4 linked regions of the Homo sapiens genome follow. The main gene of each other region encodes a partner of the protein of the gene in region 3 in a complex. Each region holds a gene or a part of one and is shown on either strand. Other genes may lie near its edges. The genes, in order: DR1, YEATS2, KAT14 and KAT2A.

The links.
Region 1: KAT14 (region 3) and DR1 share a complex: the UniProt entries of both Homo sapiens proteins name them as parts of the ADA2A-containing complex.
Region 2: KAT14 (region 3) and YEATS2 share a complex: the UniProt entries of both Homo sapiens proteins name them as parts of the ADA2A-containing complex.
Region 4: KAT14 (region 3) and KAT2A share a complex: the UniProt entries of both Homo sapiens proteins name them as parts of the ADA2A-containing complex.

What each region holds. Positions count from the first base shown.
Region 1 is NC_000001.11:93,355,549-93,363,472, reverse strand, and holds part of DR1 (protein Dr1), read right to left. Parts: intron 2,981-7,924; coding exon 2,834-2,980; 3' UTR 1-2,833. UniProt on the Homo sapiens protein: The association of the DR1/DRAP1 heterodimer with TBP results in a functional repression of both activated and basal transcription of class II genes.
Region 2 is NC_000003.12:183,770,371-183,778,294, reverse strand, and holds part of YEATS2 (YEATS domain-containing protein 2), read right to left. Parts: intron 5,991-7,924; coding exon 5,732-5,990; intron 4,663-5,731; coding exon 4,501-4,662; intron 2,381-4,500; coding exon 2,172-2,380; intron 754-2,171; coding exon 595-753; intron 1-594. UniProt on the Homo sapiens protein: Chromatin reader component of the ATAC complex, a complex with histone acetyltransferase activity on histones H3 and H4. YEATS2 specifically recognizes and binds histone H3 crotonylated at 'Lys-27' (H3K27cr).
Region 3 is NC_000020.11:18,161,151-18,169,074, reverse strand, and holds part of KAT14 (cysteine-rich protein 2-binding protein), read right to left. Parts: intron 7,256-7,924; coding exon of another isoform or gene 7,253-7,255; coding exon 6,836-7,252; intron 6,699-6,835; coding exon 6,130-6,698; intron 1-6,129. UniProt on the Homo sapiens protein: Component of the ATAC complex, a complex with histone acetyltransferase activity on histones H3 and H4. May function as a scaffold for the ATAC complex to promote ATAC complex stability. Has also weak histone acetyltransferase activity toward histone H4.
Region 4 is NC_000017.11:42,112,521-42,119,201, forward strand, and holds the end of KAT2A (histone acetyltransferase KAT2A), read right to left. Parts: exon of another isoform or gene 6,534-6,681; intron 5,884-6,533; coding exon 5,777-5,883; intron 5,498-5,776; coding exon 5,387-5,497; intron 5,295-5,386; coding exon 5,158-5,294; intron 5,077-5,157; coding exon 4,868-5,076; intron 4,642-4,867; coding exon 4,515-4,641; intron 3,314-4,514; coding exon 3,203-3,313; intron 2,516-3,202; coding exon 2,372-2,515; coding exon of another isoform or gene 2,369-2,371; intron 2,085-2,368; coding exon 1,970-2,084; intron 1,875-1,969; coding exon 1,838-1,874; intron 1,763-1,837; coding exon 1,699-1,762; intron 1,565-1,698; coding exon 1,480-1,564; intron 1,323-1,479; coding exon 1,129-1,322; 3' UTR 591-1,128; downstream 1-590. UniProt on the Homo sapiens protein: Protein lysine acyltransferase that can act as a acetyltransferase, glutaryltransferase, succinyltransferase or malonyltransferase, depending on the context.

The sequences.
Region 1 (7,924 bases), on a different chromosome or scaffold from region 3:
AATAAAGAGCCAACCCTGCTGATACTTTGATTTAGGCCTAATGAAACTGATTTTTGGACTTCTGATCTCCAGGACTATAAAAGAATAAATCTGTGTTGTTTTAAGTCACTAAGTTTGTGGTAGTTTGTTACAGTGGCAACAAGAAACTAAAATATTCACAAAAATGATGAATGAAAAAAAGTGTATTATGTATGATTACATTTACATAAAATAAAAAACAGGCAAAACTAATCTATGATTTTAGAAGTCAGGATAGTAACTTTCAGCAAGAAAGAAGACAGTGTTAAGATGGGGAAAGAGGAGGGCTTCTGGGGTACACATAATGCTCTGTGTTTTGATCTGAAGACTAGTATGTGAGTTTGTTTAATTTGTGAAAACCTTTATTTGTGTACTGTTTTGTGTGTGTGTGGTATATGCAGTTTTAAAAACTGATGCCTTTTAAACACTTACTAATCTGATAATCTGCCGAAAAAGAATATATAACATATATTCAAGGGGATGGAAAAATACTTACTGAACAATAATTTTATTTCTCAAGAACGCTGAAGATTTTGTTTCTCTCTTCAAAAGATTTAAAAAATTTTAACTGGCAAAACATAATAGTGACTCTTAAATGCTAAAAAAAAAAAAAAAAAAAAAAAAAAAAGAAAAAACCTAAAAATAAAATATTGCATAAGTAAGCTTTGTTATGCCTCGATCTTAGGACTGTAAATTATAAAAATACAAGTAAAACCACATTTTTTGAAATAACAGTAAACAAAAACAAAAGGCAGGTACTACATACCAAATGACCAAAATGTCTTTTGGGCCTAAGATTCTTGAAAATAGTAAAAATGGTAATAATAGAAATCTCTCTATAGAACATTAAATATAAAAACCATTTATAAAACACATCACAATTTTATTGCTTGAAGAATACAGCATATGAAATCACAAGAATGTCAAAATGAAAAGTCACTAGGCTTCAAACGTATAATACATTATCAGATGCAGTAAAATATTAACCTGAACTCTGCATCAGAAAAAAAAAAAAAGGTGTGGAAAATATCTAAGTTGTTTACTTAAGAAACAGATATACTTAAAATAGAAAGTATAAGGATGTTACAGTACAAATTAGAAAAGCCAACACGTATTAACTTATCGTTCTAGACTAGACTACCTTTGGTACTTAAACTTTTTAAAAAACAATTTCTTCTATCTCATCCAAATGCACTTCATGGGTATGACATCCATGAAGTAACTTCAACTTAAAACATTCAGCAAAATTAACCTTTTCACTTCATGGGGGAAGTATATTTAATAAATGTATAACAATATTTCCCTTTTACTAAAACTGCAAAATATGATCATTAAGAAACCTAACAGTTATAAAACTTTACTTACTTAGCTCTCCAATTAAAATTGGAATCCTGGGAGCCACAATCTATTTTTGGGCTTGGTGAATACATAAGTTTAAAAGATTTGGCAACTGACATAGGAATTTAATTACTTAATACTATCTTAAGTGACTTTTCCTTTCTGTTTCCAAAATATAGACATTATGCCATTTCTTCAACATCCTGGATTCCTATAAACACTACCATACTGTATTTATTAGAACCAAATTAAAGCTTCTCTAACAAGCAGGTAGAAACTATTTATGTTCCATATACGGCTGATAAGTTATAACACAACTTATGTTTCATATAGGGCTGATCAGTTAATTCATATAGGGCTGATCAGTTGTAACATAACTTCTTAAGCAAAACTAATCTTTTTTTTAAAGCTATCACTCAATTATGGAGACAATAATGTCATCTCAAAAGGTAATGTTGGACTCTAGGCCATCTAGTTGGGAAAATGTAAAAGTAATTCTAAAAACAATAAGTAAACTATAACTACAAGTTAAATTAAAAATCCCTCTCTCATAGCAAGCATGCTCATTAACTTTCATTTCTTTCCCCCAGCAAAGGTTTGAATATTCATAAACCTCAGTTAAACCAAGAGAACCAATGTAATTGTTTCAAAAGTACCACCTATATATTTGAATAATATGAGTATGGATGGACTAGGTAAGTAATACTATCAACAATTACTGAATTGGAGTGAAAGAGTAAAAATCATGACAGACTTCCAAACTGGGCAGTCTTTGAAATGTCATAGTGGAGCTCAAAATGAATTATGCTGTAATAAAACTATAGTTTTTACCTCTACACAAAACAGAAACAAAATAAAAAAACATAACCACCAAATTTATACAAATACTATTAAACATACTCCTTCCTAGTTTTTGAATGTCTTGAAGTTTTTCTAAACAAGTATATTGATCTGAGCATATATATTTATTGCCTATATATGTACTCATTTTAAAAGACAAATTCAGATACTACAGAACTGAACTCTTTCACCAACCCAATCCAATGTCTACTGATTCACACAGCACCCCCCCCTTAATAATTTAAAATTCACAAGTTTTAGTTTAGTTAAAAGGGCAGAGGAAATGCAAATGCAGATTTAGAGCTTTGTAGAAATTTCACTGTATTTTTATAAACTTGAAGTTATCTGTAACACTGTTTATTGATCAAACGAAGGACTCGCTGCTATCTAAAATTTCATAAACACCATTAAAAATTCAAAATTGATATTATACTGAACCTTAAATTTTCAATAGTTCAAAGAGACAGTTTTTACATGTATAGCACACAATAGATGAAACTTAATAGCAGACATCCCTAGAATACCAATGACAAGTCCACCAAGATGCATACAAAATTACAGATAAGCATTTCTTTCACTGTTTTTGTTGTGCAGGGAAAAACATTTATAGAAGAAATAGAAACTCAGCTGGTGAATTTCAGATATCATCATCATCTTCTTCATCCTGAGAAGATCCCGCCTGATTAGATGCACTGGCTGAGGCAGCAGCAAGCTGGGCTTGTTGGGCAGCTTGCTGCATTTGAAGCCATTCCTGTTGGGCCAATTCTGCTTGTTGCTGTCTAGCCTAAACACCCAAAACATAAAAAAAAATAACAATTTTTTACAAACCCACAATATATACACTTTGGTTAAATGTAGATTAGGCCAATTTCAGACAGTTTATTATCATACTTGGATACTGTCCAAGTACTATGTAATTGTCACACATCTGGAGAACATAAACTCTATAGGTAAATATAATTAGAGATTGCTTTTTTCTAACTACACAGGTCTAAGAAATTTCTCAAACTTGGATCTCTTATAAATGGCCCTGTTTTATTTCACGTAATTTATGACCTTTGATTCAACTGAAGAAGTTGAAAAAGTGGAACCAATATTGTGAAAAACCCACAATATTCCCTCTGGCTCTTTCCCTCTTCTTTTCCTTTCATTTCACTTGACTCTTCTGTACCCTCATATTACAACTTTGATACAAACATTTTTCAATCTAAAATTTATTTATATGGTTTAAAAGTTCTCTAGTATAGTACCTCTACCTCATAGGAAAGAAGTACTGTACATGTATGCAGTAGCTACCCCATTATTTCTTTCTGAGTTTCTATTACAATTCCCTAACCTACTATATGCCTATCTCTCTGTGTCCCTCATTCCCTCTCTGTAAGTACACACATTTGCATATACACACATACAAATATACATATCCTTCCCGTATACACACTAGTAAAAAGATACTACTTAAAATCCATTCATCTGATATATCCTCTATTAAAAACAACCACAGGATTTAAGAAACCAGGATGCATACATTATTAATTACCTATGAAACAGCTAAGGCTCCTTCACAATTTAATTTCATCTGTTTGCAGAAAAACCACACCAAGAAGGGAAAAAATGAACCTGTTCTTAAAAAGGTCTTACAATTTCCCATTAGACTCTGCCAAAACAATCCTTTTCTCCTTCTCTGTCTGTTCTTGGAATTGTTCTTTAAGTCCAACTCAGACCCTCCCCTTTATGCATAGCTAATTCCTAGTCATCATCTGAAATGCAAATCAGCTAGTCTTTCTTGACCTTTCCAAGCCATATTTTATGCTCTATTTAATATACCATAATTCCCTATGCATTCCCATATCCATCCACTTTGTTCTAGAATTATCTAAGTTTATATCCTTTTTTTCCACCACACTTGAGAATAGAGATTGTTTCCATATTCTTTGTTGCATTCCTAACATAAAGGCCCTCAGTATTTTCTGAATGAACATGCTACAGGAAAACAGTGATGCCCAGCATAACCAGTAACATTTAAGATTTTACCATGTACAATCCTCACTCTTCTGAATAATCTGTCATGACTTTATTATCCAAACATTTCTAGATATAAATTCTAATCAGGTCACTATTTCATTTTTTTAAAAAAAATCATTTGTTATCAATCAAATCCAAATTTCCTAGCCTAGAGTTCAAGGTCTTCCAAATTAGTGTCTACCCCAACCTCTCTATAGTCTTTTTTTGTAACATGTACTTTGTGCTTCAAAAAAGCCTAGAACACAAAATGTTTCCCAAATATACACCATACTTCCTCATCTTTGCTACCTTTACTCATGCTGACACTCATCCTATGTGAAATTTCCTGCCACTTACTGAAATTCTACCCTTCCTTCAAGTCAAACTGAAATACTATTTTCTCCTCCTGGCATCAGTCAGTGTATAATCAAGAGATAGATGTCACATGAGTTACTGGAATGGAAAAAATTTAATACGAAGAATTGTTAAACAAGTATAAAGTTGTTATTAGGGAGCTGAAAAGGCAGGAAGAGAACATGAAGATGTCATGAAAGTAGCAGCTACAGGAAGCAGCCACCAACCCTAAAACTGAGGGAATAAAGGAAAATGCTGGAATTTTTAAAATTTAGAAGCTTAAGAAACCACTTCATGGAACTGAAACTCAGGCCTCGGAAGAATGGGCATAGATAAGCTAGTACTAATATATCTGCGCTTGGAGGAGGGCCCCAAGGGTTGGGATCCACACTGCCAGAGTGGGGGGATGGGGTGCGGGTTCAGGCTGGTGGTGTATTAGAGAAAATGCAAACCGCGTTCAGTCTCTGCTACAGGAAAACTGATGCAACCAGGGTGAAGAAGTGTTGCTGGGTTGTTCAAAGGAACTGAAAGACAAGAGAAAGTAAGAGAAAACCCTTTCTCTTCCTCCATCCATGCAATCTCCCACGATAGCCCCATATGGCAACAGAGTCTAATGGAGAGTCAGCTAGCAAAGAAACATGTGGCTTGCAGAGTACTAGGTCCAGTCACAAAGCAGAGCATAGAAAGGTGGGTCTGGAGCTAAGATAATTGCTTACTAGTTGGCATACTCCTGTACCCCTAAAATTTGATGTAATGTTTCCATACTTGGGATTTCTTTCTCTTTCCTTCTTCCCTCTTTCTTTCTATTTTTGTAGAGAGAGGGTCTCACTATATTGCCCAGGTTGGTCTCAAACTCCTGGGCTCAAGTGATTCTCCCACCTGGGCCTCCTAAAGTGCTATGATTACAGGTGTGAGCCACTATGCCCAGCCAGAATCTCTTTCTCATAAGTGGTCAGCCTCATATTATAGTTATCTTCCTCATCCAAGTAGTCAGTCTCATAATGATATATTCTTCATTTTTTTTTATATCTATAGTACCACATATGTCTTACATACAGTAGGGACATGTTAATTGAATTCTGACTTGAAATTTGTTGACTGAAGGGCAGGAGTAGGGTGGTGCTGGTGTAGGTGGCAGTAGTGAAGTGGAAGAAGAAAAGCTATTACCTTGGGGGAAAGCTATCCAAGTAACCATAGTATCAGAGACTAATAAAGGAAGAGGTCTACATTAAATGTTATTTTTAAAAAAACAGATGAGTAAGAATTGAAAGGAAAAAAAATTACTGAATTTGGTGATTAAATGCCTCTGTGGTAGGACAGAAGTTAAATTTGAGGAATAAGTGATTGTACATTTTCAAAAAATGGTAGCACTGATCATTATTTATTTATTTATTTATTTATTTTAGAGATGGGGTCTTGCTATGTTGTCCAGACTAAAGTGCAGTGGCTATTTACAGGCATAGTTGTTATGCACTGCAACCTTGAACTCCTAGCCTCAAGGGATTGTCCTGCCTCCATCTCCCGAGTAACTGGGACTACAGGAAGGTGCCACCTTGCTTGGTGGGTAACACAGATCATTATAGCAAAAGATGAAAGGGTTTGGGGGATACAAGGAAATGCAGAAGACCCGTATATGGTTAAAGGCAAAGAGGAAGAAATAAGTAAGGAAAAGACTATAGATATTAGAAAAAACAAGGATAAGACAACTTTTACAGTAAACAAAAACTTCATTTTGCTTAGGAAATTAGAAACCATCCATTCTCCCTAATAATGACTGTCATCCATTTTTGTAAAGAAATAGGAAAAATAGTTGATTCTAACACAATAGCATATTTACTTTTACGGCAGGAATATCCAGAGTTCAAAACCAACTAACAGAGCTTCGCTAAAAACATTTTAAGGCCGGGCGCGGTGGCTCATGCCTGTAATCCCAGCACTGTGGGAGGCCAAGGTGGGCGGATCGCCTGAGGTTGGGAGTTTGAGACTAGCCTGGCCAGCAGGATGCAACCCTGTTTCTACTAAAAATACAAAAATTAGCCAGGCATGGTGGTGCATGCCTGTAATCCCAGCTACTTGGGAAGCTGAGGCAGGAGAATCGCTTGAACCCGGGAGGCGGAGGTTGCAATGAGCCGAGATAGCACCACTGCACTCCAGCCTGGGCAACAGAGCAAGACTCCATCTCAAAAAAAAAAAAAAAATTGTAAGAGTTCATAAGAAAATTGCAGGGCAAATCAAATACATAAATTCAACCAACATAAGCATACCTATATTTTGTGGTCTAATCAACTACAAGTTGGTATAATTTTGTGACATGGAAAAAATTCAAATAATTTCAAGTCTCTACAAAGGTTTTACTGCAAAGGTGCTTGATTTGGTAGTCTATTCAATGGTCTGCAAAGCTGTGTACTAGTTACATTTCAAATTTAATTGACTTTTAGCTACCACGGCCCTGTATCAGCGCTGATACTTTTCTCTGAACATAAAAACATTTCTATGCCTTTAAAACTAACTGTTGAGCTGGGCTCACTAGTGCACATCTATAGTCCCAGCTACTCATGAGGCTGAAGCAGGAGGATCCCTTGAGCCCAGGAGTTCTAGGCTGAAGTGTGCCTGATCGAGCCTGTCAATAGCCACTGTGCTCCAGCCTGGGCAACATGGTGAGATCCTGTCTCTTTAAAAAAAAAAAAAAGTTGATTGATAAAATTTTATTTGTATTCATTTCCACAAATTGAACATTTTTCAGTGATATTTACTGTAATATATTTTTTTCTCTCTTGCCCCCTACTCAATCCATCCCAAGTATTTTTCTTCTAAAATTGGGGTGTGAAAGACAGGTAAGCAGGCATGTATTTCCTAATTCACTTTTCTTTTGGAGGTTTTCATTATGTTTTAAGATTCTCACTCCCACATATTAAAATGACTCATTTATAATTTAAAGTTAACTTTAATCTTGATGTATTAAAGGTTCCCTCCTTCCAAATATTTGCTGCTAGCTTCAAATGAGGCTGTCATTGTGTTAATATTTAAAGTCTAAAAAATGAAACAAAATGAAAGTGATAAAAAAGATATATTTACTTATCCACTCTTTCATATTTAGAACTTCAGTGCTCTAGGGAAGAAGTACTAGGCAACTGCTATAATATTACCTCTCCGCTGGTCATCCTCACAATAGTAAAGAAATACTAGAGATCTTCATACATAAGTCAGGGTAAGAAACAAGGGAGACAAAAAAGAGGAATAAAAAAACAGATAATAGGGATAGAAAGGTGAAGACAGATATAGCAGGCAGTCAATTATTTCTTTATATTTTGCCCTGGCAAGGATAATACATATTCTATTTAAAAGCCCCATAATAAGTTTAAGCATATAAAAT
Region 2 (7,924 bases), on a different chromosome or scaffold from region 3:
CACATTTATACCTTGATTTTTTTAACTGTGCAAGATATCTTAAGTGTTTGCATATGAGAATAACACCTGGGTCCTTAATTTTCTCATTCTACTTATATTTTCCCAAACCTCAAGATTCATTTTTGTTTTTCTATATTTTTTATTGTTCATTTTTTCTTTTTTTTTCTTTTTTTTTTTTTTTTTGAGACAGAATCTTGCTCTGTCGCCCAGGATGGAGTGCAATGGCACGATCTCGGCTCACTGCAACCTCCGCCTCCCGGGTCCAAGCGATTCTCCTGCCTTAGCCTCCCGAGTAGCTGGGACTATAGGCACGCACCACTGCACCTGGCTAATTTTTGTATTTTTAGTAGAGACGGGGTTTCACTATGTTGGCCATGTTGGCCAGGCTGGTCTCCAACTCCTGACCTCAGGCAATCCACCCACCTTGGCTTCCCAAAGTGCTGGGATTACAGACGTGAGCGACCACTCCTGGCCTTATTGTTCATTTTCTTATGTAACCTTAATTTCTTTGTGAAAAGAGAGAAACTACATGTAAATATGTAAATAAATGCCATAATCACCCCATATTTGGGGTGTGTGCATGGGCGTATTTACCTGTGTAAACAATGTGGTTTTCTGTCCAGAGATGACTTTTAGCGTTTGTTGTCCTTGTGCAGAAGATGTGCTGACTCCCAGTGTTCCTTGGACCACTGACCCAGTGGTGAGTTGTTTTCCAGAAGTCTGGGGTGATGGCTGGCCAACTAAAAATGTGCCCTAAGTTAGAAAAAAATATAAAGAACTAATCGGTAATTTGTTAAATTCAGATGGGCTGTTCTGATCCCTTAAATCACATGTAACGTCCCATGTTACAAGCTACAACGCTCTCCCCTTTAATTCTGCAATGTAGGCAAAATAATTCAAAAGAATAGTTGTGCTCTAAGTGTTACTTCCATTAGTTATCCCCACTTCTCAAACTTTGCACTGTAGTTACAGAGCAGCCTGTTGAAAACTCATGTTTTGCAACTTAGTCCTCAAAACTGGATTTAATCATTCAGACTGATATCATCTTTCTCAATAAGAACATCTGGAACCAAAATTCTATTACTTTCCTTCAAAAAGAGCCAAGACTTCAGTGACAAGAGGAGACGAGGAGGAAACCTGTTCCTAATCAAATCTAACTTAACTCTAAATATTACAACTTGATACCATCTCTTTGATCACTCCCTTCTATGAGCAACTTTTCAACTGTACATTAATACTGTTTATTACCTCATGGATTTTGGAGGCAATTAGCATAGTAGAAATCTTTAAGGCAGGAAGATCTGGGTTTAAACCCAAATTCTTTTCCTTTTTTTTTTTTTTTGAGACAGAGTCTCACCCTTTTCCCCCAGGCTGGAGTACCATGGAGTGATCTTGGCTCACTGCAACCTCTGCCTCCCGGGTTCAAGTGATTCTCCTGCCTCAGCCTTCCAAGTAGCTGGGATTACAGGCATGCACCACCACACCCGACTGATTTTTGTATTTTTAATAGAGACAGGGTTTCACCATGGACCAGGCTGGTCTTGAACTCCTGACCTCAGGTGATCTGCCTGCCTCGGCCTCCCAGAATGCTGGGATTACAGGCGTGAGCCACCGTGCCTGGCTTAAACCCAAATTCTACCATTGGCTTGGCAGGAAGATCCTGGATAAGTTACTAAAATCTTTCTCAATCTCTACTTCCTCTTCTCTCAAAGCAAGCAAAAAAGATAAAAACACATAGTTTTTTTTTGAGAAAGGGTCTCACTCTGTCACCCAGCCAGGGTGGAGTGCAGTGGTGCGACCTCAGCTCACTGCAGCCTCAACCTCCCAGGTTCAAGCAATCCTCCCACCTCAACCTTCGGAGTAGCTGGGACTGTAGACGTGCACCACCACGCCCAGCTAATTTTGGTATTTTTAGTAGAGACAGGGTTTTGCCATGTTGCCCAGGTTGGTCTCGAACTCCTGGGCTCAAGCGATCCACCCACCTTGGCCTCCCAAAGTGCTAGGATTACAGGCATGAGTTACCACACCCGGCCAAGATATAGATATAGATAACACGGTTAAGGTGTTAGTATTGAACCCTGATCCCAGAGCCGTAAAGGTAAATCAATTATAATTAAGCATAGTTATCCAATAGCTAAATGATTTAAAATATCAGTTACAGAGAACCAGACCTGGGGAGTTTGCTTGAGGATGTAAGATGTGTAAGTCAGGTGCTGAGATATCCCTCCAGGGCCAGCAGTACTTTGAGTTCCTCCTCCTGCTGTTCCTCCTCCTCCTCCTGTGCTGCCGCCTCCACCGCTGCCACTGCCGCCTCCTCCTCCTCCTCCTCCTCCTCCTCCGGCACCACTCCCACCACTGGCAGCTGAGCCAGACTGGAGATCTAAAAATACAATGAATGACAGCAACATCATAAAAAGTATCAAGCAAAGCTTTAGCATAAAAAACAAATGAGCCCAGAGAGATGTTTCCCTTTTAGTGCCATTCCTTCTTCTTTCCCATTTTCCTCCGTCTTTTCTGTAATCTACCTACCCTGTGACAAGAGTGAGGAGAACTTCCTAGATTTTAGATCAAAATCTATTTCCTTTCAACTGCATGACAACTGACTGTATTTCGGCTCTGAGTACAATGAAGATACTTTGACGTGGTCGTGGGAGATCAAGAGAAGGCTTGCTACTGACATTTTCTAGCCAAGTATTTTTTTGAGACGGAGTCTCACTCTGTCGCCAGGCTGGAGTGCAATGGCAAGATCTTGGCTCACTGCAACCTCTGCCTCCCGGGTTCAAGCGATTCTCCTGCCTCAGCCTCCCAAGGAGCTGGGACTACAGGCGTGTGCCACCATGCCCAGCTAATTTTGTATTTTTAGTAGAGAGGGGGTTTCACCATGTTGGACAGGATGGTCTCGATCTCCTGACCTCATGATCCGCCCGCCTTGGCCCTCCAAAGTGCTGGGATTGCAGGTGTGAGCCACTGCACCCAGCCTCTAGCCAAGTATTTTAATCAACACTTAAATGTGCTCAGCTAGGTGCTTCCCAACTTTTGGGCATCTGATTCAATGTCAGGGAATTGCTGGAATTTAGTGTAACTTTACAGTGCTCGATGTTGTCTCCCTGTCTCAGGAAAAATGAAGACTTTCCTTCATTTACAATGACTCCAGGACCCCATTCTTCTTTGCCTTTCAAATCCCACTTCAAAGCCTTGAAGTCTTTTTACTTCTCTTTTGGTGAGATAATGCATTTGAACTACCTGGACTATGAATATTCACTCAACAAATACTAACTTCCAATTTCCTTCTCCACCTTCATTCCAGTGATTATTGGAATAGCTTCCTTCCCAATGGTTTATTTTTGCACCAAGGATATCACAAGAATCTAAGTAGCTCCCTGGATGACTTCTGAAATATTTACATTGTCCTTTTCTTACACATTTAACTTTTGGACATACCACTGCTTAGGTATGAGGAAAAAACACCAAGTGAGAGTGGAACTGACACATCATGGTCAATGAACGCAAGGATGATGAGCTGACACACTGCATTTTGGCAAGGGCGGTTAACTTCCAATGACCCTGAATGCTGTACCCTTCTACTTCTGATTCAGAGGGAAATAATTTCCTTTTATCCTATCCTTTTCAACACTGCCCAAACGGTTTTTCTCTATATGTCAAAGCAAAAGTTTCTTTAACTGCAGATAAACTGCCTCATTTCCATGGGGCTTTAAGACTTACAAACCTAGGTAGAGTCTGTATTTCTCTTTCCATCTCCAAACCTAGCAGAAGTAAGGAATACATCCAAACCAGCTGTCCCCAAGCTTTGTGGCACCAGGGACCAGTTTCATGGAAGACAACTTTTCCATGAATTGGGACAGGAGGCGGGGGGTGGTTTGGGGAAGAAATTGTTCCACCTCAGATCATCAGGCATTAGATTCTCATAAGGAGCACACAACCTAGATCCCTCGCATGCACAGTTCTCAACAGGGTTCGCGCTCCTGTGAGAATCTGATGCCACTGCTGATCTGACAGGAGGCGGAGCTCAGGCAGTAATGCTTCTTCGTCCATGCTCAACTTCTGCTGTGCGGCCCAGGGGTTGGGGACCCCTGATCTAAATGAAGTCAAACAGACACACTCGATTCCAATCCTATGCCAACCTATCCCCAAAAACAGACTTCCAGCTTCTATAAGTAGATGGATCTTCCCTCAGGTATCACCAGATAATTTTCAGACACCACTTCATTCATGGTTCATGTAGACAGCTTTCTCCCAACAGCCTCACCAGCCATCTCTCTCCAGAGTGATTCATCTCTGATTGCAAACGCTGAGGAGCAAACCCACTTCTAGTTAAATTATCGTATGTGTTAAATCCATCTGAGCAAATGCTACCATTACACCACCCAACAGAGTTACAGAAATGCTTCCTGAAACAGGTAAGAACTGCCCTCAGATGGACAAGATGAACACACATAGAGAACCAAGAACCAAATGATTCAACCCAATGGTTTCACTAACTAGCATTGTTCGTAGCTCGCAGGATGGCTCCTTGAGGGATCAGCAGCAGTTTTCCTTTTCCTGAAGGGTTCTTGCTGTTTGTAGTTAGGTAGAGTTTAGTGCCAGGAGGCAAATTTGCCAAGTTGGCCAAATTAGTGGCTGGTAGCTGCAACGTTGCCATTACTAAAATGGTAAAGGAGAAAAAATTGTAAGATAAATTGAAACTAAGGGCAACACTCTAAAATTAAAATACAAGGCAATAAATTCTTATTTTAGAACACTAACAAGCAATAAATTCAAAGTTTGTTTCCCAGATGCACAATGCTTTAAAGACTGATATTCTTAAATATCTTGCTAATTAAAAAATAATTTATAGACCAGAAGAGCCTGCCAGAGGCTCTTTATATCTGTATATAATAGGATGATCGTACGTCCTGGTTCTGCCCAGAACAGTTCTAGGTTACACCTGTCCCACTATAATTATTAATAATGACTCTTTTTACTCTCCAAAGTACTGTGGTTTGGACGATTAATGAAATAATCACCCTGTCTATGGAGGATTACATATTTTCCCCCATTTGTTTAAAGTCAAAGTTAGGGCAAATGTGTGCTCCTAACTGGCAAGTACCATTGGCCCTCTGTATCTGTGGATTTCACATCCATGGATGTAACCTACCTCAGATAAAAAATATCCATATATTTGGCAGACAAAAGGATGAGTACATCTGTACTGAACATGTACAGACTTTTTTCTTGTCATTATTCCTTAAACAACACAGTGTAACAACTATTTACATAGCATATACATTGTTATTACATTGTTATTTACATTGTTATTAGGTATTAAGATAACCTAGAGATGATATAAAGTAAAGTACATCAGAGGATGTACATAGGTTATACGTAAACAGTACAGCATTTTACACAGGGGACTGTGGATTAGCATCTGTGGATTTTGCTATCTGCAGCAGGGGGTCCTGGAACCAATCCCCCACAGTACTGAGAAATGATTTGTTCGTGTGTGTGTGTGTATGTGGGTGTGTGTGTGTGTGTGTGTAAATTTAAAGCTAAATACTCACAGACCTTTATGTAAAATGTCCCATAAAAAAGAACAAACATTTCAATACACTTCTTACAGCATCAACCTAACTAGGCTTTCCTAGACCAGATCAAATAGCAAATAAAATCACTAGCAAAGGAAATTTTGGACAGAGCTTCTGCTGAAAGGGCTCCCAGTGATGATCCGTTTTACCTGAACCCTGGGATCCACTCTTCTGAGGACCAGCGGCAGTAACCTGGGCCTTGGTTAAGGTCTGCACTGGCTGAGCAACAATGGTTCCTCCACCTCCACTCACAATTGCTTTGGCAACTCCTTGGGTTACAACTTGCTTTGGCCCAACTGCTTTGGAGACAGAAGAGCTGGCCTTGGCTACCAGGATCTGGCCACCACTGATCGCCACAGCCTGCTTCACTGTTGAAGGTAAAGCAGACCCAACTGGTACCCCGACAACCTGTTCAAAACAGAGCAGAGTCCAACGGTGCTTCGAGAGCTCTTAGAACAGCAGTCACCGTTTTGGCAGAGAGCAAAACAAAGGCCTGCACATAATACATGCAGCCTAATTCAGTCATCTAGGAAAGCTACCTACACAGGTGTGAACGGCAACTGTATTTCTTACACTTGGGTATTACAATAATAGAAGCTTAACAATTGTTGTCTTGCCTCAGCTACTTTTTATAATTTACTTTAATAGAAAATTTGGGAAATTCAGAAGTATAAAGAAAAAAGTTTGGCCGGGCGTGGTGGCTCATGCCTGTAATCCCAGCACTTTGGGAGGCCAAGGCAGGAGGAGCATTTGTGGTCAGGAGTTCGAGACCAGCCTGGCCAACATGGTGAAATCCAATCTCTACTAAAAATACAAAAATTAGCTGGGCATGGTGGCACACACCTGTAGTCCCAGCTACTCTGGAGGCTGAGGTAGGAGAATCCCCTGAACCTAGGATGTGGAGGTTGCAGTGAGCCAAGATCATGCCACTGCACTCCAGCCTGGGTGACAGAGTGAGACTCTGTCTAAAAAAAAAAAAAAAAAAAAAAAAAAATTAGCCAGTACAGTGGCACACATCTGTAGTCCCAGCTATTCAGGAGGCTGAGGCAGGGGAGGATCCCTTGAGCCTAGGAGTTCAAGGCTGCACTGAGCCGTGATCACACCACTGCCCTCCAGCCTGGGTGACAGAGCAAGACCCTAAGAAAAGAAAAAAAAAAAAAAAAAAAAAAGGCAAGAATAATATTTAACTATTAAAAAAAAAAAAGACCCCAGTACCCAAATAATGAAAATTAGAAGTATCTAGTTCCAAAAGTAAAATGAATTCTTTTAAGAAAATACTCAGGAGTGTTTTTAAAACAAAGTCAACAGTAGGATGTTAAATTAAACACTGAATGAATGGCAAACTGGAGCAGTGTTTCCCACTCCCAGCACCTTATTTCATAAAAAGAACTTCTCACCAGAAACTAGATGAACAGACTTCCACAAGGTTGGAAGAAATGCAAATGATCTACCTTCTTAAGGCAAAAAAGACAAAATAGGAAGTGCTGTTCACCCATCAGATTGGGGGAAAAAGAGTTTAAAACCAAGAAGTTACTAGAGGCTGTGGGGAAAATAGGAATTTGTGCTCACTGTTGGTAGGAAGATAAATTTGGACAGCCATTCCAGAGAGGCACTGGCCCATCTGCTAAAACTGAAAATTCACATACCCCCGTATAGTAGGAATTGTTTTTAGGAATATATCCTAGAGAAACATACATGCGTTCAAGGGAACATATACAACAATGCCCAACATAGCATTATTTTTACCAAAAACTGTTAGCAACCTTAATGTCTGCAGCATGCAACAACATTCTTAACGTCTACAGATAGAGGAATGGACAAACTGTGGCATAAAACAGACAACGAAAGGTCATACTAAAAATAAATGAACTAGAATTATATATATTAGTGATATATTAGTGTAAACAGACTGGAAAAATAAGAAAGCGAAAAGGGAGTTGCAGAAAAATGTAAGTAGGAATATCTTTTACGTAAACCTTCAAAACACAAACAACATCACGTTTCCTATGACTATGTATTCATGTAATAAGCGCATGGAGTGGAAGGCTACACATCAAAGCCATGACAGTGCTTGTTGCCTCTGGGAAGAACAAAGTGGACTTCAACTTTATCAGAAATGTTTTATTTGGAGAAAAAAGATCTGAAGTAAACATGAATAAGTAAATTTGGGGTGGAGGATATGGGGGTATTGATTACTTAATTCTCTACATATGTTACTGGAATTTTAGAGTATTTCTAAATTTTAAAATAAGATTATTTAGAAGGTAGAATGAAATGATAAAGCATATTCAACTGATAAGTAGGAAATTTTTGTTTTTTTGTTTTTTGTTTTTTTTTGAGAC
Region 3 (7,924 bases):
GGCTGAGTAAAGAATCTCTGAACTTGAGGATCTGTCAGTAAAAACTTCCAAAACTGAAAAGCAAAGACAAAAAAGATGAAAAAAAAGAACAAAACAGACTATCCGAGAACTGCGGAAAACTACAAAAGGTGTAATAAACACACAATGGGAATACCAGAAGACAGAAAGGAATAGAAGAAAAATTTGAAGCAATAATGACTGAGAATATCCCCAATTTAATGTCAGACACCAAACCACACATTCAGGAAGGTCAGCGAACACCAAGCAGAATAAATGCCAAGAAGCATATAAAATACCTCTGACCAAAAGAACAGAGTTGTCAAGTAAGACAAATGAGAACAAACACAATTTCTGTGTTTTGGATGTGCTGGAAAATAAAATAATAGAAAAAAGAAAACAAAGCTTTAAAAAGAGAAAATAAAAGACACTTAACATGCACTAATTAAAGATAAAAAACAAAGAGAAAATTCTGAAAGTTTTAGGAGATGGGAGAATAAAACAAGGAGGCCACTTAATTGATAAGAAACAAAAAAAATTTTTTTTTTTTGAGAGAGAGTCTCACCCAATCACCCACGCTGGAGTGCAGTGGCATGATCTCAGCTCACTGTAACCTCTGCCTCTCTGGTTCAAGTGATTCTCAAGCCTCAGCCTCCCAAGCAGCTGGGATTATAGGCATGCGCCACCAGGCCTGGCTAATTTTTTTATTTTTAGTAGAGACGGGGTTTCACCATATTGTCCAGGCTGGTCTCAAATTCCTGGCCTCAAGTGATCTGCCTGCCTCGACCTCCCAAAGTGCTGGGATTACAGGCATGAGCCACTGAGCCCAGTCAAAAATTTCTATTTCTTATCAGTACCGGGGTTCTCAGGAGTGACACTGTATGTAAGATGATAATGAAGTCATAATTTCAAAATATCAATGGAAAAAACTAAAATAACAATTTTATATGACTGCTATCATTTAAATGAAAAAGTGAAATGAAGATATTCTTAGTCGTATAAGTTTTCAAAATTAACCTCAAAAAGCCCATATTTTTAAAGAACTGTTAGAGAAAGCAGTCCAGCAAGAAATTAATCTAGAAAGAAACAATAGGACGAGTGAATAATTTAGTAAAGATTTATGTCATTTAAATAAGCAATACAAAAGAAAAAAAGAGATAAGTGCATGAAAATGTACTTTTTTGTTTGGGGGGACAACCACATGATATTAAAAAAAGAATAAGGAAAAATAAATGTATCTTAAGTTAGGACCTATAAAAAGAATAAAAATAGAATGTATAACTTTCTTTATGGTACAGAATGAACATCACATAAACTATTTTCTCTGATCATAATACAACATTAGAAATCACATCAATTACCAAAACATAGCTTAAAATTCTCATATATCTGAAAACCAAAAAACAACTAAATAACCTTTGGATTAAAGAGGAAATAATGAGAAAAATAACAAAATGCCAAGTACTGATTGGAAATAAAATCACATCATTTCAAAAGTCAAGAATCACAGCTAAAGCAGCACTTATTGAGAAACTTATAGCTACGAATACATTCAAAGAATAAATATAAAACAAGAGTATGGATTGAATAAATGCATTTACAGCCACTCCCTGTGTAAATACATTAAAATTTATACTAAAATTCCAAGTTAAGACTGGGTTAAAACACAAGCATATAAAGCTTTACTACTTCCCAAAATCCCACTAAAACTATAGAAGCTGACTTAATTAGAACAGTAACTGGTAAACAGATGGACAAATAGTAACTGATTTAACACCAAAATCCCAAAGTGGCTTTGGGTAAGCTAAATGAGAACTAACCCAATCTATACTACAGAACCCGCTAAAATCCAGGCAGCAGCCAGCAGATTCCTCTGGAACTGGGACCAAATGGGACAATAAAATAAGGAGCAGGCAAACACCATGTGGAAAGCAGTATGATCCCCAGATCCTTCCACTCCCTGTTGCTGGGTGGCTGCCCTCCCCCAGAAGCCAGGAGGTCTGATCTCTAGAGAACTAACAGGGGATCCAGCTGGAGGGCTGAGGTGTGAGTACCTGACAAGCTGAATGCTAAGGTCCCTCTTCCCCAACTTGGCAACCAGCATCCTGAGCCCAGAAGATTATTCCCCAGGGACTCTGACTAGATTCAAAGAAAAAACCTAAAGGAAGTGCAGTGGTCCTCAACAGAGGTCTCACCTAGACAATGTGGCTGTGTATGGAATTCCAGGTTCAACCTCACTTAATGAGGGTCTTTTCAGTATGTTGGTCTCAAATTTTACTTCCCATGCAGCTTTTCTCAGGAAGTCATTAAGAACAAGGGAATAAACCTATAACAAGGTAAAGATGGGCCACAGGAAACAGGAGATCAAATACAGAGGAGGGCAAAAGAATCTCCAGAGAGGGGAGATCCCAACACCCCTGCTGAGTTTCACAACAAAGGGTGAACAAGTGTGACCCAAGGGGCAGACATAGTGTAGAAAGTAAAAAGTTTCCTCTTCAAAGTTTTCCTTCTTGTTAAAGAATAAATCATAAGTGTTAGAAATAACAGTTTCTTTTAAAGACTAACTTTCTTCAAGTCTCCTTGCCTTGTGCTAATAACTCTTTGTTAAGCCCTATCCTCTGTAACCGTTGGACATGCTCACAGGCACGTTCCAGCCCACAGTCTACGCCCCTTCCTTATTTGGAAATGTTATTGCTTCCTTAAACCTTTTGTAAGCAACTTCTTTGTTCTTCCCTGCACTTACCTATTTAGGAAAGTTTTAGGCTATTAGCAAATCGGGTATCAGTTTAAGATTGTGAGGTCCCGCTCCAGCCAGTGGATGCAGGACACAGCAGTAAGGACGACCCAAGTGCGTAAGGGATAAATATGTCTGCTTTTCCTGTGTTCAAGTGTGCTCTCACCTTTGTTCCATCTGCAACTGAGCACCCTTTCTACAGAAAGAAAAGATGGCCTTGCTGAGATACCTTTTGTCTCTGTGCTGACTTTTCTTCGCAGCACCGATTATCTATTTCTAACAATTTTGGTATTTCTAACACATATTGAGGCTATCATCCTTAAGTCCTTGCTGCCACTGACCATCTTTTAAACCTATGGCGTCGTGGCCCAGAATCTTATCTACGCTCAGCTTGTCTTCACCATGTACAGGTGAGCCTCCTGTACACCACCCATGCCCACCCCAAAGACCAGCTGATGATGCTCACTCCACAAATAACTGCTTTGACCTTCTGCAAGCTGGAAGGAAGCTGTCAGCTCAGGCAGGAAATACAGAGGATCCCACTTCCTCTGCCCAGATTTCTGCCGCATCTCTGGTATACATCACAGCCCTGGCTGATGCATACGCTATGGTGAGCCTCATGTTTCCCAGGACTCCCTAGTGACCTTGGCCAGTGACTACCTCAGAAGGGGTTCATGGAAGCCGAAGCCAGAACATCACTGTAAGTATTAGTTTCCCAGGGCTGTAGGAACAAAGCACCACAAACTGGGTGGCTTAAAACAACAGGAATTTATTGTCTCACAGTTCTAGAGGCCAAATGTCAGAAGTCACAGTGTGGGCAGGGCTATGCTCTCTGGGGTACGCACTAGGGGAGAATTTGTTCTGTGCCCTTCTCTTAGCTCCTGGTGCTGCCGGCAATCCTTGGTGGTCTTGGCTAATTATATTTGCAAAGGGCCTATTTCCAGATAAGGCTGCATTCATAGGTACCAGGGTTGGGACTTCAACATATGCTTAAGGGGGACACAATTCAGTCCACAACAATGACCCAGAATGACTATTTAGCTTATCTTCTCCAGGAAACTTCATCTAATAGTGGCAATTTACTTACACAGCTAGATTTATGCTTGCTACTCAGTATTTTTTTAAACGAAAAGTATATCATTTAGAGACATACACATTTAAAAAGCAAAAGAATAATTAACACTGTAAGTCAAAGTGGCTTCCTCTGAGGGGAACAGAAAGTACACAGGAGACTTCTAAGGTGTTTACAACACTCTTTATCCAGGAGATGAATACATGGGCATTTATTTTACTAATATCTAAATTATACCATATTTCTATGCTGCCTTCTATCTGTATGACACATCTTACAATTTAAAAAATTAAGTATAGGCAGTAAACAGACAGGCCCACAAGAATAAGAACAAAGAACAGGTGAATATTGGCCAGGCGCAATGGCTCATGCCTGTAATCCCAGCACTTTGGGAGGCTGAGGCGATCACTCGAGCCCAGGAGTTTGAGATCAGTCTGGGCAAGATAGTAGGACCCTGTCTCTACTAAAAATAAAAATTAAAAAAAAAATTAGCTGAGTGTGGTAGTGTGTGCCTATAGTACCAGCTACTTGGGAAGCTGAGGTGGGAGAATTGCTTGAGCCTGAGAGTTCGGGGCTGCAATGAGCTGTGGTTGTGCCACTACATTCCAACCTGCGTGACAGAGAGAGACCATGTCTCAAAAAAAAAAAAAAAAAGAACAAGAACAAGTGAATAGATGACTAACAAAAGCATATGAACAAGCAGCAAATGACTTAACAGACCAAAGAAAGCCAATACCTAAGCCAGTGGTGAAGCTAAGCAGGGTGATTTACAAAACACAGCCTCAGGGAAGTGTAGTCACCTAAGGCATCAGGCTTAGAGCCTGGGGGGTATGACTATGGATTGTGAGGCTCTTTAAGAGGTTAAAGGCTCCAATTATACCCCTATAGTAATTATACTGCCCACATCTAGGAAATGATCTTTCCCTCCACGGGCAGAAGACTGGAGAGGCTCAAGAGGGAGATTCTGGACACAGGAAGCCAAGGGTGGGAGTACTGTACTGAAGACAGGGAGAGTCAGTTTACCTCCTAAACGATGGGCTCCTGGGCCCTCCCGACTTGGCTCCTGGTAGGCAGGCCAGTTAATACTGTGCTTCCCAGGAAAGATGGGAATTAGGAAAAAAAAGAAAAGAGGATCTATCTGGAGTAGGGATCTTGGTAAACTATAGCCCCCAGGCTAAATCCAGTCCACTGCCCATTTTAGTAGATAAAGTTTTACTGGAACACAGCCACACTCATTCACTACGGCTCTCCAATCACAACAGCAGAGTTGAAGAGTTCCGAATGAGATTTTGTGGCCGGCAAAGCCTAAAATAATTACTATCTGGCAGAAATACTTATTTCTTTACAGATAAAGTTTGCCAACTTTTAATCTACAGGGTCCAATATCCAAATAATGGGGAGTTCTAAAATGAGAGAACAGAAAAAATAGAAGATAGGAAATCAAGACTTTTCCATACTCAGGAAAGAAAGTTTCAAATTGAAAGGGCCCACACACCACATGTCCAGCACAAGGAAAGACATAAGCCCTACATACGGCACATCACTGAATAATACCAGAACACCAGCAATGAAGAGCAGATCCCACTAGCTTCCAGAGAAGAGAGAAAAACATGCAGACTCCAAACAGGCAATTCACAAAGAAACAACCAGGAAATTTAACCTCACCTGTAACCAAAGAAATATAAATAAAAAACAAGATTTCACTTTACAGCCAGCCAATTAGCAAAACTTAAAGGCTGGTTAGTGTCAAGTGCTAGCAAAGATAAAGGGAATAAGGCCTCTTGTTCCTCCCAGTGGGAGAGTATATACAGGTAGTTCTAAGTGGAATTAATTGTTCCCAGAAGCATCCACAAAATTTGGGTTCCACCGACCATCCTTTGAGCAACACTGATACCACACTGATCCCTTGGCTGCTATTTCTTCATGTTGTCCTTCGCAGATGTCTACACACCTTCAGATCCTCTGCAACACAGTGTCAGAGACACCGTCATGGCCTCAACAAATTTGTCAAAGCTACGACACAAACCATGCATATCTATCCTCAGAGAGAGAGAGACAAGAGAGACAGATGAAGAAAACTTATAGGTTATGTTTGAATGCCTAAAGGAAAAGAAAAACTCAGATGTATTCAGGTGTACTTACAATGAACAATTCTGAAAAATAAAGCCCAGCGATTTTTGTATTTTTTTCCCTTGCACTTTACTTTTCTCTTCCCAAATTACTCAGGATTTAAAAGGTCACAGCATAACCATGTCCAATGCCTAGTGCTGCCTGCCCCACCTCCACTCCTGCCCCCAAGGGCTTTACAGCAAGTGCTTGCATTCACCTGGTATCGGTCAAGGATTCTGAAGTCCTGACAGGTGGTTCTGTACGTGGCTTGTCCAGCTGGAAGTCTGGAAATTCCTCCTTCTTTGGCTCCATAAATCCCGTCAACTAACAAAAGAGCAGCATTAACAACTTGATCCAAGTCAAAAAGTGGTAATCCCCTATCCCTTTTCGCTTGTCTGACAATCAGTTTGCGTTTCAGTCTCCGAGCTTCCGGAGTCATGGCAACAGCACCGGGACAAGCTTCCAGCCTCTTGAGCAGCAGCTTTTCCTCGTAGATGCTCACGGGAGTATACCTGGGCTCTTTCGGCTTTGTGTCCTTCTCCAGCTGAGGCTTCCTCTTTTCTCTAGCCCTTGTTTGCAAAGATGTGTTTGAATCTGTGTCTTCACTGTCAATATCCATCCTGTCGGGTTTTTCCTCCTCACTCTCTACCTCCTGCTTTATCTGTTCAGGGCCTCTGACCTTCTTTCTGACCCCAACCACTGGCCCAGAAGCTACTGACCCAGCAGGGGGTGGGACGTACTCCATCCCTGGGTCTATGACTCCATCGCCTTCCATCTCATCGTCATCTGTGCAGAGTACAAAACAGTGTCATCAAGACATAGGAAGGAAGAAATGCAGAGCACACAGCCCACGGGGTGAAAACTTGTACATTTATACCATGGCCCATACCCAAAATAAAAGAGCAAAGCAAACAAACTCTTACCATGAAACAAGGCTTGTGGGGGCATCACATCTGGAATCAGATCTGCTTCTGAAAGCAAGCTAGGTGTGGCAGAATGAGAGGCAGGTGTACCAGGGGCAGAGAAATCCAGAGAAGGAGAAGGAGATGGGCTTGTCAGCGGGGTGCGGTCAGAGGAGCTCAAGGAGGAAAAGTCAATCACTTCGCCTTTTTCCAGAATCACATCTGGCCTGCGGCCTCGGCTTATGAATTTTACAGGGGTAGAAGATGTGCTCCTGTCAAGAAAGCCAGCGGCCTCCTTCTGGGCTCTTCTAATGTCTTTTGCTTCCTGAGTTCGAGACCTTTTCTCTTTTAATTCCATGGCAGATTCCACAGGATTCCGACTTGCTCGTTTTCTAAGTCCCTCAACAGTAATGATGGGATCTAAAGTTGGTTTTGAGGCTGCTAAGAAAGAATAAATACAGGCTGAGTATCCCTCATCTGAAATGCTTGGGCACAAGCATGTTTTGGATTTCAGATGTTTTCGGCTTTTGGAATATTTGCATTTTACTTATTGGCTGAGTATCCCAAACCCAGAAATACAAAATCCGAAATGCTGCAAATGAGCATTTCCTTTGAGCGTTATGTCAGTGCTGAAAAAGTTTCAGATTTTGGAGTGTTTTTGATTTTGGATTTTCAGATTTGGATTGCTCAACCCATATCTAAATTTTAAAATAACTACTCAACTTTAGTTTCTTTTGCTAATTTATTATTATGAGTAATATCATGTTCAATAAAGAGAAATGTTCAATGAATGCCCTAAACTAAAAAAGACTTAGATATCTCTTGAGAAAAAAGAAGTTATACTGCAAATTTAAACAAATAAATACTATCTTTCACCTACTGGAACTGGCAAACATTAAAAGTTTAGCCAGGCGTGGTGGTGCACGCCTCTTAATCCCAGAACTTTGGGAGGCTGAGGTGGGTGGATTTTGAGCCTGGGAGGTGGTGGCTGCAGTGAGCCAAAAAAAAAGTTTGATAAAGCTCAGTAAATGTATGGGGAAATGGGCATTTTCATGGGCATTTCAATGGGTACTTTTTTTTTTTTTTGAGACAGGGTCTTGCTCTGTCACC
Region 4 (6,681 bases), on a different chromosome or scaffold from region 3:
GGGGGGACACCCTCAAAACTCATCAGAAGCCTGCTGTGGCCAAAAGGTGGGGGTGGGGGGGGGTGGGAGTAACACAGGCTACACCTGCGCCTTGCCCAGCCTGGGTCTCGCCTGCACCACCACGTAGGCCTGCCCAAGGCGGCCCTGCTTAGCTCAGCCTGGTGCCGCTGTGCTCAGCGCAGAGAGCAGAAATCAGAAATGGAAACTGAAACTGAGGGGAGGAGCCAGCTGAGCCGACTTACGAATCTCCTATCCCTGCCCCAAGAAAAAGAACCACGTGTGCTAACAGGGAAGCACTCTTTCAGTGCTACAGGATCCTCTACGCTCTGGCCCTTCTGCAGTCAGTTGTAACCACATCCACCCAGGTTAAGGTGAAGGCAGGAGGTTCTGACCCCTGCTGCCCTGGCATCTGGATCAGGAGCAGCCTGGAGGAGGGAGAGGTGGGGGGCTGCAGGCAGGTAGGACCCATCACCCCAGGAGCACAGGACCAGGCCTGAGGCTTGCTGGGGAGAGCAGCCTCCAGTTTGCAAGAGGTCCCTGGGGGCCAAGGTGAGCCTGCTAAGGCTGGGACTACACCAAAGAAACAATCACACAGAGAAATAAAAAGCTTTATTATTCCCTCTAAGGGATTAATGCCAGGGAATGAATGGTCCCCATACCCCCCACCCCTGGGGGAGACTGACAGAACAGTGCTGGACAAGGCATGGCCCCCTTCAGTTTGGGCTGAACTTCCAACCCCTGAAGCCATCACTCAAGCTAAAATGAGCAGTTCTGGTCCTCAGGGAAACAGCCACCTGGGCCAGGCCCAGGAATCCAAGCCTCCAAAGCTCTTGGGGACCAGGCCTGGGGGCCACCACGGCTGGGCAAGGTTCATCCCTGGCCACCAGCTACTCTAGAGGGGCTGGGCCCCAACCCAGGAGACCTCTCACACACAGTGAAGGCTGGGACAGAGCTGCACGCTTGGGGGTGCCTGAAGGTCCAGAAAGAGCTGCAGGATCGGGTCCGGAGGACCCTTGGCTGGAGTGTCTCAAGCTGAGTCGGGTCCGTGGGGCCAGGGCACCCCCTAAGGATCAGATCAGAATCCGAGGTGGAGACATTCCAGGTCAGGGCTGCGGCCCAAAGATGGGCCTACTTGTCAATGAGGCCTCCCTCCTTGAGCTTGAAGTAGAAGAACTTCTCCAGGGCGCTGGCACAGCGGCAGTACTCGCTGTCCGGGGGGTTGTACTCGCGACAGTTGGCGATGACCCGCTGCAGGTCGGCCACAAAGAGCTTCCGGGTCACGTAGTAGCGGCTTCGCAGCCGCTCAGTCATGGTCTTCAGGTCTGGGGCAGCAGGAGACGGAGCACAGCTTTAAGAGGCTGAAGACCACGGCAGGGCTGTCCACCAGGGTGGGCCCCCTGGGGCTGCAGGGCGCAGTGAGGGCAGGAGCAGGTGTGGGGACAGAAGAGGAGGGAAGGGGATGGAATGGAAGGTCCTCACCAATGGGGAAGCGGATGACCTCGTAGTAGTCAGGGGCCTCCGACTTCTTCACAGGCTCCATGAAGGGCCAGGCACTGGGGTGAGACTGGAGAGAAGAGCCGGGCTGGGGACAGCCCTGCTGCGCCCACGCCAGCCCGAGACCACTACCCACCCCACACTGCATCAAGAGGCCACAGCCATTGGTGCAGGGGCCCTGGAAAGGAAACCTGGTCTCCCCACCTTGATTTGGGCCAGCAGGTTTTTGAGGGTTGTGTAGAGCTGGTCGGGGTCCTTCAGCTCCTTCCTGGGGCGAGAGACACCAAGTCTGAGGCTCCAAGTCCCTCTGCCCCACCCCCAACCCGGCTCCTTTGACACTCACCCCTTCTCCTTCCCCAATGGCTTCCAGCCTGTCTCTCCTGCAAAGTGGGAAGTGGGAGAATGTCTCTAAGAATGCCAGTCCACACCCCAAGCATCGTGCCCCCACTACCCTGCAACTGAGACCCCTGCTTACGAATGCCAGGAACGCTCTCCACAGGGATCTGCCTCACGCCCTCCTTGAAGCAGCTGAGCCCCGGGTAGACCTTGCGGATCTGGGCCTGTTTGCGCTCAATCAGCTTCTTGATGATCTGAGGGAAGGAAGGGACTGAGGGGCCAACTCCAGCCCCAACAACAACCCCTCCCAGGGCCACAGTCGGAGCCACTGGCTGCACCCACCCAGCTGCAACGCCACCTAATCCAGCACCTCCCCTCATAACTTCCCCAAGGGAGCAGAGCAAGAGCCAAGATCCTGGCCTGCCCCTCCTCACTCACACACATATATGCATGTAGACGTAGAACAGGTCTACACACGTGTGCTCGCCCTCTGCATGCCCATTCATGAAAAATCCCACAGATGCGCATGTGTGCACACCACCTCTTTCTGCTTCTTGATGATGTGGGACAGCTCCGTGTAGGGGATGCGGGGATTCAGCTCACACTCCATCAGCGTCGCTCCCTCGTAGTCCTTGATGTAGCCCAGGTAGCGGCTCTTGGGCACCTTGATGTCCTTGGAGAAACCCTGGGGGGTGGATGGTCATGACCCAGTCCATCCATAAGTATTTCCCAACTTCTGTCGTCCCTCACCTGGGAGCACCAGAGGAGTAGCACGTGCCACTTGCCACCTCCTGCTCCTGAACCTCCTCCTGGGGCACTGTGAGGGTTCAAACTGTCCCTGGAAAGGTCCCAGGTCAGCTGCCCACTCCTGACTCATCCCGAAGAGTCCCCCAGTTCCTCCAGCCTGCTCTACTGGCCCCCCAGTTCCTCTAGCCTCCTCTACTGGCCCCCCAGTTCCTCCAGCCTCCTCTACTGGCCCCCCAGTTCCTCCAGCCTGCTCTTGGCCCCCAGTTCCTCCAGCTTGCTCTACTGGCCCCCCAGTTCCTCCAGCCTGCTCTACTAGCCCCCCAGTTCCTCCAGCCTGCTCTAGTGCCCCCCCCAGTTCCTCCGGCCTGCTTTACTGGCCCCCTAGTTCCTCCAGGATGCTCTACTGACCCCCAGTTCCTCCGGCCTGCTCTACTGGCCCCACAGGCCCTCATTCTCCCCTGGGGCAATGGCAGCAGAGGAAAGAAGATAGGCATGGAGACTCTCCTGGCAGGTGTCAGGTGAAGTAGGGGACGCAAAGGGACTCCTACTCCATCCACAGAGGGGCTGGACAGAATTACCCCAGCCTCCAGGCAAAGGACCGGTGTGGGACGAGGCTACGGGTCACCTGCTTTTTGAAGTAGCCGATGGCGTACTCGTCGGCGTAGGTGAGGAAGTAGAGAATGTTGTGCTTGATGTGATACTCCTTCAGGTGGTTCATCAGGTGGGTCCCATAACCCTGCGGGGGAGGGAAGCAGGACTCACCAGGAGCTGAGGATGGGCCTGGTGCTGGAGAGGTCTCAGAGACCAGAGAAGAGCGGGTAGATTGGAAAGGAGGTAGAGAGAGCGAGAGCATCCAGGCAAAGAGGAAGAAAGGCAGCTGACAGAGGAAGGGGAGCTTATGGGGAGAAAGTGAAGGGTGCGGGCTTTCTAAGCTCACTCTGGGCTAGGTGCAGTGCTTCCTGTTTTACAGACCGATTCTCAAATTAACCCCAGAGGCGAGTATTACCACCTTTATTTTACAGAAGAGAAAACCGAAACTCAGCTACGTTAGGAAATGTGTTCAAGGTCAGGCTGCCAGCCGTGGCAGGGCCGGGTCCAAACCCAACACAGGCCACTGATTCCCAGTCCCTGGGCCTCAGAGTTGGGAGAAGCGGGAGAGGGAGTCACCAGAGGTCTGAGCAGCAGGAGCAATGCCTCCCACACGTCAGGGCCAATGAGGCACCACACAGATCTGAGGTATGCGACACACAGAGCCAGAGACCCTACGAGTGGGTCTGTTGTAACAAAGGACAGAAGCCAAAACTATCAGCATAGGGCTACTGTAATAATGATTAGTTTGGCTGGGCGCGGTGGCTCATGCCTGTAATCCCAGCACTTTGGGAGGCCGAGGTGGGTGAATCACTTAAGGTCAGGAGTTAGAGACCAGCCTGGGTGAAACCCTGCAACATGGTGAAACCCTGTCTCTACTAAAATACAAAAGTTAGCCAGACGTAGTGGTGCATGCCTGTGGTCCCAGCTACTTGGGAGGCCGAGGCAGGAGTATCACTTGAACCTGGGAGGTTGAGGCTGCAGTGAGCCCTGATCATGCCTCTGCACTGCGGCCTGGGTGAGAGAGACCCTCTTTCAAAAAAATAAATAAAAAATAAAAAGTAAAGTAATTAATTCCCCCATGTATGTAAATGTTCTTGTGATGCAGAAAACCCAAGTCCACAGGTCCACCAAAGTGTGGCTGCTGCTTGGGCTCCGTCTGTCAACAGGTGGTTTCCTAATCCACAGTTATCAAAGTACGGCTGCCACCTTGTGGGGATGTGAGGAACGGGCCGCTAACTAAGAGAAGAGCAACGGGCTGCTGCATGCCACACATCCTGCTGCTCCGAACTGGCCCAAACTCAGGAGTGGGCCGTGGACTGGGGCTGGGGCCGGGGAGCCGCGCTCACCTTGACCTGCTCATTCGAGGTGACAGCACAGAAGACAATCTCCGTGAAGCCCTGGGTGGGAAACATGCGGAAGCAGATGCCACCGATGACCCGCCCATCCTTGATCAAGGCCAGAGTCTTGTGCTTCCTAAGAGAGAGGGGGGCATGTCATAGCCCCTGACTGTCCCCTTCAGGTCCCCAGAGCCCTGGAAGTCTGAGCTGTAGTCAGGGTTGGGCAGTGAGAAGTAAGAATGCTCAAAGGATGAACCTCAGAAGTGGGGAGCAGGGGATCCCCAATTTTGAGGAGTGAAGAGGCCGAGGAGGAAGGGAACTGGGTGTGCTGCCCTGGGGGAGGGGCTCTCTGGGGGACGCACGGGTCAAAGACGAGGCGGGCGATATACTCCTTAGGCATGCGCGGCAGCTGGTGGGAAAAGACATTCTGCAGCCCCACGAGCCACAGCAACACCCGCCGGTTGGCCTTGGGCGTCAGTGAGTTGCCGATGACATGGAACTCGATGATGCCGCGGCGCTCCTCCAGGCGGGCTGTCTCATCCCGGGCCGCATTGGCCGAAAGCAGGCTCGTCTGGGCACAGAAGAGGGGTGGTGAGCCGGGGTCTCAGGTTGGTGGGGGTCCCCCAACTGGTCAGCAGGTCGGGCTGCCCACCTCAGGCCCCAGCATGGCAGCAGGGTCAGTGATGGTCAGCATGACCTCATTGACCAGCTCCATGGGGATGTCACCCATCACACGGAGCCGCTTGGCATCCTCCAGGGTCAGGTTCTCTGGGAGCGTCCTCTTCTCGCCTATTGGGGAGGCAGGCAAGGTTGCTCAGGATCAGTAAAAAAGGTTTGGGAAGGAGTGAATGAGGGTCAGAGGTCAGGGGTCAAGTATCCACCTGGCATAGGCTCGGCCCCTGCAGAATCCAGACTCAGGGAGCTGTTGCTGCCCCCACCCATGCTGGGGCTGAAGATGGGGGTGCTGGGAACAACCGCTGCACTGACTGAAGCTGAGGAGAGAGAGAGACGTCAGGGATGGGGGGCTGAAGCTGAGGAGAGAGAGAGAGAAGTCAGGGACGGGGGCTGAAGCTGAGGAGAGAGAGAGTCAGGGACGGGGGTGCTGAAGCTGAGGAGAGAGAGAGAGAAGGCAGGGACTGGGGGGGCTGAAGCCGGTGGCAGGTCCCTCAGTGGGATCCAGGGCCTCCGGCCCAGGTGAGCTCTCTTCCACCCAGGAGGCTTAGCTCAGCCAGGCAGGCCAGACACCCTACAGAGCGTACCATGGCACATACCTGGCCGGGGAACCAGCTGTGTCCCCTCTGAGGGTGGCATGGTGAAGCCTGACTCCCAGATTGGAGAGTTTGCCCCATAGATCTCCTCCTCCAGCATGGACAGGAATCTGTAGGGAGGACACAGTCTGTCCCACAACTCTGTTCTCCAGGGTGCAGCCTGGGCCAGGCAGCAGAGGGACTGGAGGCTGGTCAGAGACAGACCCTGCTCTTAGGGAACTGGGGACCTGAGAGAGGGGACAGCCCCTGTCTTCTGGGAGCCTCCAATTGAAGGTAAGAGGACAGGACACATCCAGGACAGAGATCAAACAGGCTCAGTTTCACCACGCTGTGTGGCACAGGGAGACAGGTCTGAGCTGATGTCATCCTGTGCTGTGTGGCCAGGCAGGGCACCTTGTCACCCTGAGCCCCCTCACTGCCCTCAGTATCAAAATGGGCTCAGACTCCACCCCACCTTGCCATCTCTTGTTCCCACCTGATGGCAGGGGGCACTAGAGAGCCAGGATTAGTCAGTCAGGGTTTTTTGAACAGGGGAGTTATGGCCTAGATTTTAAAAGGTGTGGCCGAACAGAAGAAAATGGTACAGAAAAGACCAGAACAGGAGTAGAAATTGGTTTCACTTCAAGCTTAAGGTCTGGTTTCTTGGAGAGTTGTGCAGGGAAGGAGTCTGAGGCTGTGTCCAGGCCCCCATGGGAAACAATTAGTAACATCTACTGGGGCGTAGGGTCGGGTGGGGGCAGCGTTAGCTTGGGCTATGTACCTGCCATCCCCAGACTAGTACTAGCAAGTTGCTTCTGGGCCATGGGCAAGTCTGCCAGGTAGACGCCCAGATCCCAAAAGGCCCATGGAGGGAGAGGAGGGACCAATCCAGGAAGCCTTCCTGGAAAAAAGGGGACAACAGGGAGGAT